2 separate regions of the Homo sapiens genome follow, and region 1 is linked to region 2. A link means that fine-mapping ties the variant in region 2 to the expression of a gene that starts in the linked region. Tissue or cell type: prefrontal cortex. Region 2 holds a variant in brackets; the other region holds the start of a gene. All regions are shown on one strand. Distances are from middle to middle.

Region 1 (5,382 bases), 85 kb after region 2:
AGTTAGAAGTACTCAAAAGATCTTGCAAATTCAGCAGCTACTTCTTCAAAGATAAGCTTGTTTCCTCAAATATAAGGAAAGATAAAAGGTACTTTTTTTTGCAAAAAACAAAACGGTAAAACTTACATTTGTGGATAGATTACAATTTTCATTTTTGAAAATTAATTTTGTCTGGACTTAAAACGTATTTTTTTAAAAAAAATCATTTAACATTAGAGGAAATCTCACCACTAGCAACAAAAATGTTAACTTGAAGCTAGCCACTAGTTTTGTGCTTTTAATAAATTGTATTTTTATGGACTGAAGTAAAGTTTCACTAAACAGGCATGTCATAGATGCAGCTTGATTTGGCTTTCTGTTTAACGGCTTAAGAGTTTTGTTGTCCCGTACTCATAATGTCATATAAACAAAGTAACCTTAGCGATATGTGTTAAGAAATTTTAAAAATGTATTCAAATATATGCAGTTAGGCATCTGAAGGCCTTACTCAATACTCACTGTTAATAGAATGAGATGGTCCCTTCCTCTAAAGACTAGCTGTTAAATATGGATGTGTAGCTTAATAATCATTGAAAAGGTCTAATCCAGCTTTGAGTTGGTGATAATTGAACTTGTTCTGATTTTTAGTAGCTATAACGTTTACACAAAAACTTTTTGTATAAACGTTATAGCTAAGGGAAAATTGAGTGTGCAAGGTCCAACTCGTTTTTGAAGTTCAGTATATGACTCTTTCTTCATAAACATCTCACTGACTCTCCAAGGACTTGCTTGTAACTTCTCCCACATTTGAACCTTGTATATTGTCGTATTTCTACTTGGCATCAAATAAATAATTATAGACTTAACTCTACGCTTACACCCAAACTGGATGGAAGCAAATACCTTCTGGCTATAACTGATGAGTGGTATTTACATAAAGTGAATATCTCAGGTGAAAACTTTTATGTCTGCACTCGAATTTTTTAGCTTACATGATCATAATTATGATCATGATAGTTTTTTGTTTTTGCGTTTGTGTTTGTGGTTACAAGATTTTAGTAGTTGAATTTTAATGGAGTATTTTCAACATAAGTTTCATCATTAGGAAACAAAATTGTGATGATTTCACTTATCCTTAAAGGATCCCCTCTCATGTTCCTCCTTTTCACATCTCCTGAGTTCTTTATCCACTTCTCCCAAGGTAGGTGCCACCTTAGTACTTACTTCATGCTCCTTCCTGCATTATCTGTCATGTTTTGTAGTTTGTCTCCAGGCTCCATCATAATACCTGGAACACAGAGTTGATTAAATATCTGATGGAAGGAATGAAAGAATTCAGTGGATGTTCATGAAAAGTATCTATTAGTATAAATTGAATACAAGGAATGACAAGCAGAAATGTATGTAGTTTGTGTGTAACTCTTGTCAAGCCACCATTTAATGTTTTTATATGACTTTTCTGCAATAAAGAAAACCCCTAAAGTTGTATAGATTGAAAATTAGTGACATTTCACTAACATTCATTTGGTTGATCAATTGACATTGAGCACCCAGTACTATGTGCAAAGTACCAGGAAGAATACAAAGTTAGAAGTTTAAGCAAGGATCAGAACAGATCACACAGCTGGCAAGTGCCTGAGTTGAGATTTGAACCCAGGCAGTATGGTTCTAATTTCACAATTGTTAACTGCTATGAACATGCCTCCCCAGGAATATAGTATAATATAGTTTATAGCTGGTATAATATAATTTATAGTTTTTGCTTATATGGCCAGTTAGCCTTTAGTTGTATTAAATGAAATATTTCTGTACATGTTATATTGTAATCTTAATGATTTACAGTTGATTTTCAAATTATTGCACAGTATTTATATTTCTGAATCACCCTTCCTTCTTCTAGGAAACCACTCATACTTTAGTGGAACGATTAGAAGTCTTCAGTTGTTCATGTGTGGCCCTTCAACATCTTTCTTTCCTAGAAAAATCAAGCGTCTTAGCTTCAGTGTTCTAAGCCCCTCCCCCAGAACGTGTAGGCAGCTGGGTGGAGCCTAAAGCCGAGCCCTCTCCTGTGACCTCGGCTGAAAAGAAGAAGCCAGTGTTTGAGAAAAGCTTCGTGGTCTGTGTTCTCTAGTTGTTCCCTCTTCTCTCTGACATTCCTTTCGTCGTCGCCAGGTCTTGTTTTTCGCTTGATCTCTGGAAAATACTGAAAAGTATTTTACTTTTCAGCTGTCTCCTGCTAAGTGAGCGTACTCCCCCTTTCAGGCTGACTTCCTCATTTCTCCGTTTCCCTGATAAATGGGCGGGGCCTCGGGGAGGTATGGAAACTGAAAAGAAATCATTATTGTAGAAAAACTAAAGAAATTTTTGTTGAGCAGAGGAATTTGGAAATTTTCCTTGCAGATCATTTGGTTGAGAAAACACCTTTACCATAACTTATTTCTTTTAAACTTTGCGGACATTTTTTCTTTTCCTGGGTTCTTAATGCTCCAGTGTTCGGTCTCCTTTCTCTTCCTTCGTTTCCTTTTAGAGGTCTTTCCAGGTAAAGATAAAGCAATCAGAACAATTGAAAATTTATTTTTTTAACTTGTTTTAAGAGCAATTTGAAGAATAGAGGTTAAAAGTAGAAACATACAGAGTAACAATAAATATTGTATTAAGAAAGTCTAAACAGCCAAACTTAAAATTGCATTGCAGGACAGTAATCATCTTGATAATATGCATTATGACTTTTCGGAAACGTTCAGCATATATAATATAAAGGGGAGAAGAGGCAGCCACCATACTCTTTTTAAGAGAACCGGCCTTAAATTAGACTTAAAATATATATATTTTTTTGAGACGGAGTCTTGCTCTGTTGCCAGGCTGGAGTGCAGTGGAGCGATCTCTGCTCACTGCAACCTCCGCCTCCGGGTTCAAGCGATTCTTCTGCCTCAACCTCCCGAGTAGCTGGAACTACAGGCGCGTGCCACCACGCCCAGCTAATTTTTGTATTTTTAGTAGAGACGGGGTTTCACCATGTTCGCCAGGATGGTCTCGATCTCCTGACCTTGTGATCCGCCTGCCTTGGCCTCCCAAAGTGCTGGGATTACAGGTGTGAGCCACCGCGCCCGGCCAAAAAATAATTTTAAACTGTTCAGTTACCTTAAAATAGTAATGCATGTCTGTCATAGTGTAAAATGCAGATAGGTTTTTAAAAAGTGATGAAGTTGAAAGGAAGCCTTCCTCCTTCCCATATCTGCAGGCAGATAATTCCCTTCAGGGAAGCAACCACTGTTACCACTCGTTTCTTGGATGTTTCCTGAGATAGTGTATGCCTCACAAGCATATATGCAAATAAGCTTCCTTTTTATTAAATAAATGCACCTTGCTTTTTTTCACTTCACAACATATTTTAGCATAGATGTTAATTCAGAGCTGCCTCATTCATTTTAGCAGTTATACAGTGTTTCATTGTATGGTATAGCATAATTTTTTTTACCAGTCCTCTACTGATGGGTATTTAAGTTGCTTCCAACATTTTGTTATTATGAACAATGCTACCACAAATATCCTCAACGCTTATGTCATTTTGAATATGTGCAGGTATAGTAACTCCTAGAACTAGACTTATTTTTGTCAAAGGATAGTTGCATTTTTATTTTGATAGATATTGACGTATTGCTCTTCACAGAGGCTATATCAATTATGCCTCACTAGCAATAAATGATTTTTTTCTCAATGCCTTCATTAACACAGCTTGTTGTCAGACTTTCTGATCCTTGCCAATCTAAGTGAAAAATGGTAATTTATTGTGGTTTTAGTTTGCATTTCTGTCATTATAAGTGAACATTTTGCATTTTCTCTCCGTGAACTGGCTGTTCATAATTTTTGGTCACTTTTCTGTTGGAGTGTTGGTCTTTTCCTTATTGATTTCTAGGAGCTCTTTGTGCATTAAAGAAATTAGTTATTTGTATCAAGTATGAATTGCATATACTTTTCCCCAGACTTTTGATTTTGTTAATGATAGGCTTTTGGAGTAAAGGGAACTTGGGAAGGAGGTTTTTGCTTTTTTACTATTATTTATCTATTATTAAAAAAATTCAACTTTTATTTTAGATCCAGGGTATATATGTGCGGGTTTGTCACATGGTTATATTGCATGATGCTGAGATTTGAGGTACGAATGATCCTATCACCTGGGTAGTGAGCATAGTACCCAGTAGTTAGTTTTTCAACCCTTGCCCCTTTCTTCCCTCCCCCCTCTAGTAGTCCCCAGTGTCTGTTGTTGCCATCTTTATGTCCATGAGTACCTACTGTTTAATTTCCACTTATAAGTGAAAATATGTGGTATTTGGTTTTCTGTACTTTCATGAATTTGCTTAGAATAATAGCCTCCAGCTGCATCCATGTTAGTTTTGCTATATTTATGTAGTAAAATGTTTGGGTTTTGGTTTGTATTTTAAAAGGTTTTCTCTACTAATGCAGGGAAAGCCCAGATTTGGGGCTCAGCCCAGGAGAGTTCTTGGCTTCATGCAGGAAAGGATTCACAAGCTAAAGCAAGTTTATCAGAGCAACAAACTACAGGAAAATGGCTGCTCCATAGACAGAGTAGGAGCAGCAGCTCCCATGAATTGTTGGCCAGCTGTATACATACAATTCCCTGGTTATATGCTAAATAAGGGGTGGGTTATTCATGCATTTTCCAGAAAAGTAGGAAGGGTTCCCAGAACTGAGAGTTCCTCCCTTTTTTAAACCATATAAGGTAACTTCTAGGAGTTGCCATGGCATTTGTAAACTGTCATGCCACTGTTGGGAGTTTTTTTTTGCATGCTACTGCATTATAATTAATGTATAATGAGCAGTGAGGGCAACTAGAGATCACTTTTGTTGCCATCTTGGTTTTAGCTGGTTGTGGCCAGTTTCTTTGCTGCATCTTGTTTTGATAAGATTCTGTTTCAATCAGTGGGACCTTGGTGCTCAGAAAACAAGCCCAGCTCATCTCCTACCTTACTACTATAAGATTTTATTTAACTCTCTTTTTATTTCCTGTTTTTATATGATTTTGATTTTTATGTTTAAATCTTTGATTCATCTAAAACTTACTTTGGTATAAGGATCCCACTGAATTAAATTGGACTGCAAAATGAACCAACTGATGTTGGAAACGGGTACCTCATTGATTAGTTACATGAGAACCATCCCAAACTCCTGTAGACTTATTATATATTATTTCCCCAGCACCTGGTATGGTACCTGAAATAAGATGAGTGCTTAATAAATGCTTGATAAACTAAATTGAAGGGAATTTCTGGGCTTATTATCTTTGTTATTAGCCATTGTATTGATCTGATATGTAGTGTTAAATGAGATGATGATACCACGAACACAGTAGATTTCTCCTGCACAAAATCTAGAGTGTTAGAT
Region 2 (5,382 bases):
CTGGGCGACAGAGTGAGACTCTGTCTCAAAAAGAAAAAAAAAAAAAAAAGAATCCAAACTGCTTTCCACTAGTGGCTGAACTAGTTTCTGTTTCTACCAGCAGTGTAAAAGCATTCCCTTTTCTCTGCAACCATAACAGCATCTGTTATTTTTTGATGTTTTAACAGCCATTCTGACTGGCGTGAGATGGTATCTCATTGTGGTTTTGATTTGCATTTCTCTAATTAAGTTGAGCTTTTTTTCATATGGTTATTGGCCACATGTATGTCTTCTTTTGAAAGGTGTTCAAGTGCTTTGCCCATTTTTCAATAAGGTTTGATTTTTATTGTAAATTTAAGTTCCTTATAGATGCTGGATATTTGACCTTTGTCAGATGCAGTTTGCAAAAATGTTCCCCCACTTTGTATGTTGTCTGTGCACTCTGTTGATAGTTTCTTTTGCTGTGCAGGAGCTCTTTAGTTTAATTAGATCCCATTTGTCAATGTTTGCTTTTATTGCAATTGCTTTTGGTATCTTCTTAATAAAATCTTTGCCCACTCCTATGTCCAGAATGGTATTGCCTAAGTTGTCTTCCAGGGTTTTTATACTTTGGGGTTTTACATTTAAGTTTTTAATCCATCTTAAGTTAATGTTTGTTAATCTTCTGCACATGGCTAGCCAGTTATCTCAGCACCATTTATTGAATAGGAGTCCTTTCCCCATTGCTTGAGTTAGGTTTGTCGAGAATCAGATAGTTGTAGGTGTGTGGCTTTATTTCTGGGTTCTCTATTCTGTTGCAATGGTCTATGTGCCCGTTTTTGTACCAGTAGCATGCTGTTTTGGTTACTGTAGCCCTGCAGTATAGTTTGAAGTCAGGCAGCATGATGTCTCCAGCTTTCTTATTTTTGCTTAGGATTACCTTGGCTATCTGGACTCTTTTTTCGTTCCACATGAATTTTAAAATAGTTTTTTCTAGTTCTGTGAAGAATCTCAATGGTAGTTTAATAGGAATAGCATTAGATGTATAAATTGCTCTGGGCAGTATGACCATTTTTACAATATTGATGCTTTCTATCCATGAGCATGGAACATTTTTTCATTTGTTTGTGTAATCTTTGATTTCTTTGAGCAGTATTTTGTGCTTCTTGTAGAGAGATCTTTCACCTTCCTAGTTAGCTGTATTCCTAGGTAGTTTGTGTGTTTATTTATTTATTACAACTGGGAATGGGATTGCGTTACTCATTTGGCTCTTGGCTTGACTGTTTTTTTGTGTACAGGAGTGCTAGTAATTTTTACACATTGATTTTGTATCCTGAGAATTTGCTGAAGTTGTTTGTCAGTTTAAGAAGCTTTTATGCCAAGACTATGAAGTTTTATAGATATAGAATCCTGCCATCTGCAAATACGGATAGTTTGACTTCCTCTCTTCCTATTTGGATTACATTTCTTCCTCTTGCCTGACTGCCCTGGCCAGGACTTCCAATACTATGTCAAATAGGAGTGGCGAGAAAGGGCATCCTTGTCTTGTGCCAGTTTTCAGGAAGAATGTTTCCAGGTTTTGCACATTCCATATGATGCTGGCTGTGAGTTTTTCATAGATGACTCTTACTATTTTGAAGTATGTTCCTTCAATACCTAGCTTATTGAGACTTTTTGACATGAAGAATGTTAAATTTTAATGAAAGCCTTTTCTGCTTCATTTCAGATAATCATGTAGTTTTTGTCTTTAGTTCTGTTTATGTGATGAATCACATTTATTGATTTGCATATGATGAACCAACCTTGCATCCCAGGGCTAAAGCCTATTTGATCATGGTAGATAAGATTTTTGCTGTGCTGCTGGATTTCATTTGCCAGTATTTTGTTGAGGATTTTTGTCTCTATGTTCATCAGGGATATTGGCCTGAAGTTTTCTTTTTTGTTGTATCTTTGTTAGGTTTTGGTATCAGGATGATGTTGGCCTCATAAAATGAGTTTTATGGTCTGTTGCATTGGTCTATGTGCCTGTTTTTGTACCAGTACCATGCTGTTTTGGTTACTGTAGCCCTGAAGTATAGTTTGAAGTTGGGCAGTGTGATGTCCCCAGCTTTCTTCTTTTTGCTTAGGAATACCTAAGCATTTTTTTTTTGGAATAGTTTCAGTAGAAGTGGTACCAGCTCTTTGTATATTTGGTAGAATTTGGCTGTGAACTTATCTGGTCCTGGGCTTTTTTGGTTCATAGGCTATTTATTACTGCCTCAATTTCAGAACTCATTACTGGTCTGTTCAGTAATTCAATTTCCTCCTGGTTTAGTCTTAGGAGGGTGTATGTGTCTAGAAATTCATCCATTTCTTCTAGATATTCTAGTTTATGTGCATAGAGGTGTTCATAATATTATTTGATGGTTGTTTGTATTTCTGTGGGGTCAGTGGTAACATCTCCTTGTCATTTCTGATTGTGTTTATTTGAATCTTCTCTCTTTTCTTCTTTATTAGTCTAGCTAATGGTCTATTTTATTAATTTTTCCAAAAAACCAGCTTCTGTGTTCTTTGATCTTCTGGAT[GTTTT/G]TTTGTGTCTGAATCTCCCTCAGTTCAGCTCTGATTTTGGTTATTTCTTGTCTTTTGCTAGCTTTGGAATTTGTTTGCTCTTGGTTCTGTAGTTCTTTTAGTTGTGATGTTAGGTTGTTAACTTGAGATCTTTCTAACTTTTTGATGTGAGCACTTAGTGCTATAAATTCCCTCTTAACACTGCCTTAGCTGTGTCCCAGAGATTCTGGTATGTTGTATCTTTGTTCTCATTAGTTTCAAAGAACTTGATTTCTGCCTTAATTTCATTATTTACCCAAACGTCATTCAGGAGTAGGTTATTCAACTTCCATGTAATTGTATGGTTTTGAGCAAATTTCTGTTTTGGCTTCTAATTTGTGCTGTGGTTTGAGAGATTGTTATGATTTCTGTTCTTTTGCATTTGCTGAGGAGTGTTTTACTTCTGATTACGTGATTGATTTTAGAACATGTGCCATGTGGTGATGAGAAGAATGTATATTCTGTTGTTTTTGGATGGAGAGTTATATAGATGTCTCTCAGGTCCATTTGATCCACTGTTGGGTTCAGGTCCTGAATATCTTTGTTAATTTTCTCTCTTGATGATTGGTCTAATATTTTCAGTGTGGTGTTAAAGACTTCCACTACTATTGTATGGGAGTCTATGTCTCTTTGAAGGTCTCTAAAAACTTGCTTTACAAATCTGCGTGCTCCTGTGTTGGGTACATATATATTTAGGATAGTTAGATCTTCTTGTTGAATTGAATTGAACCTTTTACCATTATGTAATGCCATTTCTTTTTTTTTTTTGCTCTTTTTGGCTTTTGTCAGAAACTAGGATCGTAACCCCTACTTTTTTTCTGTTTTCCATTTGCTTAGTAAATCTTCCTCCATCCTTTTGAGTCCATGTTTGTCACTGCATGTGAGATAGGACTCTTAAAGACAGCATACCAACGGGTTTTGCTTCTTTATTCAGTTTGCCATTCTGTGTCTTTTTTTGCTTTTTAACTTTTATTTTAGTTTTGGGGTACATGTGAAGGTTTGTTACATAGGTAAATGGATGTCACAGGGGTTTGTTGTACATATTATTTCATTACCCAGGTATTAAGCCCAGTATCCAGTAGTTATCTTTTCTGCTCCTCTCCCTCCTCCCACCCTCTCCTTTCAAGTAGATCCCAGTGTCTGTTGTTTCCCTCTTTGTGCTTGTAAGTTCTTACCATTTAGCTCCCACTTATAAGTGAGAACACGCGGTATTTGGTTTTCTGTTCCTGCGTTAGTTTGCTAAGGTTGTGCCTTTTAATTGAGGCATTTAGCCCATTTACATTCAAGGTTGGTATTGATATGTATGGATTTGATCCTGTCATCGTGTCAGCTGGTTATTTTGCAGACTTGTTTATGTGGTTGCTTTACAGTGTCACTGGTCTGTGTACTTCAGTGTATTTTTGTAGTGGGTGATAATGATCTTTCCTTTCTGTATTTAGTGCTACCTTCAGGTGCTCTTGTAAGGCAGGTCTGGTAGTAATGAAATTCCTCAGCATTTGCTTGCCTGAAAATGATCTTATTTCTCCTTCGCTTATGAAGTTTGGTTTGGCTGGATATTAAATTCTGGCTTGGAATTTCTTTTGAGAATGTTGACCATTGGCCCCCAATTGCTTCTGGCTTGTAGGGTTTCTGCTGAGAGGTCTGCTCTTAGTCTAATGATCTTCCCTTTGTAGGTGACCTCATCTTTCTCTCTAAGATGTCTTTAAAATTTTTTGTTTCATTTTGACCTTGTAAAATCTGATGATTATGTGTCTTGCGGATGATCTTCTTCTAACTTATCTAACTAGGGTTCTCTACATTTCCTGAATTTGAATGTTACCCTCTCAAGCTAGGTTGGGTAAGTTCTAATGGATGGTATTCTGAAATGTGTTTTCCAAGTTGCTTCCCTTCTCCCCATGTCTTTCAGGGATGCCTATGAGTCATAGATTTGGTCTCTTTACATAATCCCATATTTCTTGGAGGTTTTGTTCACTCCTTTTCATTCTTTTATTTCTATTCTTGTCTGATTGTCTTGTTTCAGAAATCCAGTCTTCAAACTCTGAGATTCTTTCCTCCACTTGATCTATTCTGCTTTTAATACTTGTGATTGCATTATAAAATTATTGTAGTGTCTTTTTCAGTTCTATCAGGTCAGTTGGTTTTTTTCTATACTGGCTATTTTTGCTGGGCAGCTCCTGCATTGTTTTATCATCGTTCTTAGCTTCCTTGGATGGGTTTCAACATACTCCTGTAGCTCAATGATCTTCGTTTCATGCATATTCTGATTTCTATTTCTGTCATTTGTAGCCATCTTAGTCCAGTTCTGAACCCTTTCTGTATAGGCAATGGGGTAGATTAGAGGAAAAAAGGCACTGTGGCTTTTTGAGTTGTCAGGATTCTTGCACTGATTCTTTCTCATCTTTGTGGGTTTATCCACCTTCAATCTTTGAGGCTGCTGACCTTTCGAGGCTTTTGTTCTCTTTTATCCTATTTGATGACCTTGAGGGTTTGATTATCATATAGGGTAGATTTAGCTGACTGGCTTCATTTCTGAAAGACATTAGGGGACCAATGCTCAGCTCCTGACTTCTGGACTGTATGCTCTAACCCTGGGGATTTGTATTGGGCCCTGACATTGTTCTCTCACTCCATGAGGTTAGAAATCCACTGTGCTGCGAGCACCAGGTGCTTCTGGACCACTGGTCACTACATTCCAATGTGTAGTGTCAGCCAAAGTGTTTCATAGTGCAGTGACAGAGGGATCTGTCCTCATTCACATGTGCCAGCAATAGCAGTAGCAGCAGCTGTGGCAGAGTGCTAGTGGCTGCTGGGGTGCCTGCCTCCCTGTGGGAATTAACC

Which allele goes with the higher level. Alleles are on the strand shown, and positions count from the first base shown. SD is a standard deviation of normalised expression in the study named.
For the expression in prefrontal cortex of the gene that starts at base 2,038 in region 1, allele G in region 2 goes with a lower level than allele GTTTT (large effect, 1.3 SD a copy in BrainSeq).

Evidence for each region. PIP is the estimated chance that this variant, and not a neighbour inherited with it, causes the effect.
Region 1: it holds the start of C4orf33, and the variant in region 2 is fine-mapped to the expression of C4orf33 in prefrontal cortex (BrainSeq, PIP 0.91).

What each region holds. Positions count from the first base shown.
Region 1 is chr4:129,094,115-129,099,496 of GRCh38, forward strand. It overlaps C4orf33 (chromosome 4 open reading frame 33), which reads left to right and starts at 2,038. Exons shown (of 6, transcript NM_001099783.2): 1 at 2,038-2,095.
Region 2 is chr4:129,009,487-129,014,868 of GRCh38, forward strand. The region is part of intron 5 of SCLT1 (sodium channel and clathrin linker 1); the gene reads right to left. Among named protein-coding and RNA genes, the nearest start is that of SCLT1, 81 kb to the right of the region's middle. The variant GTTTT/G (reference allele first, on the strand shown) is at 2,523.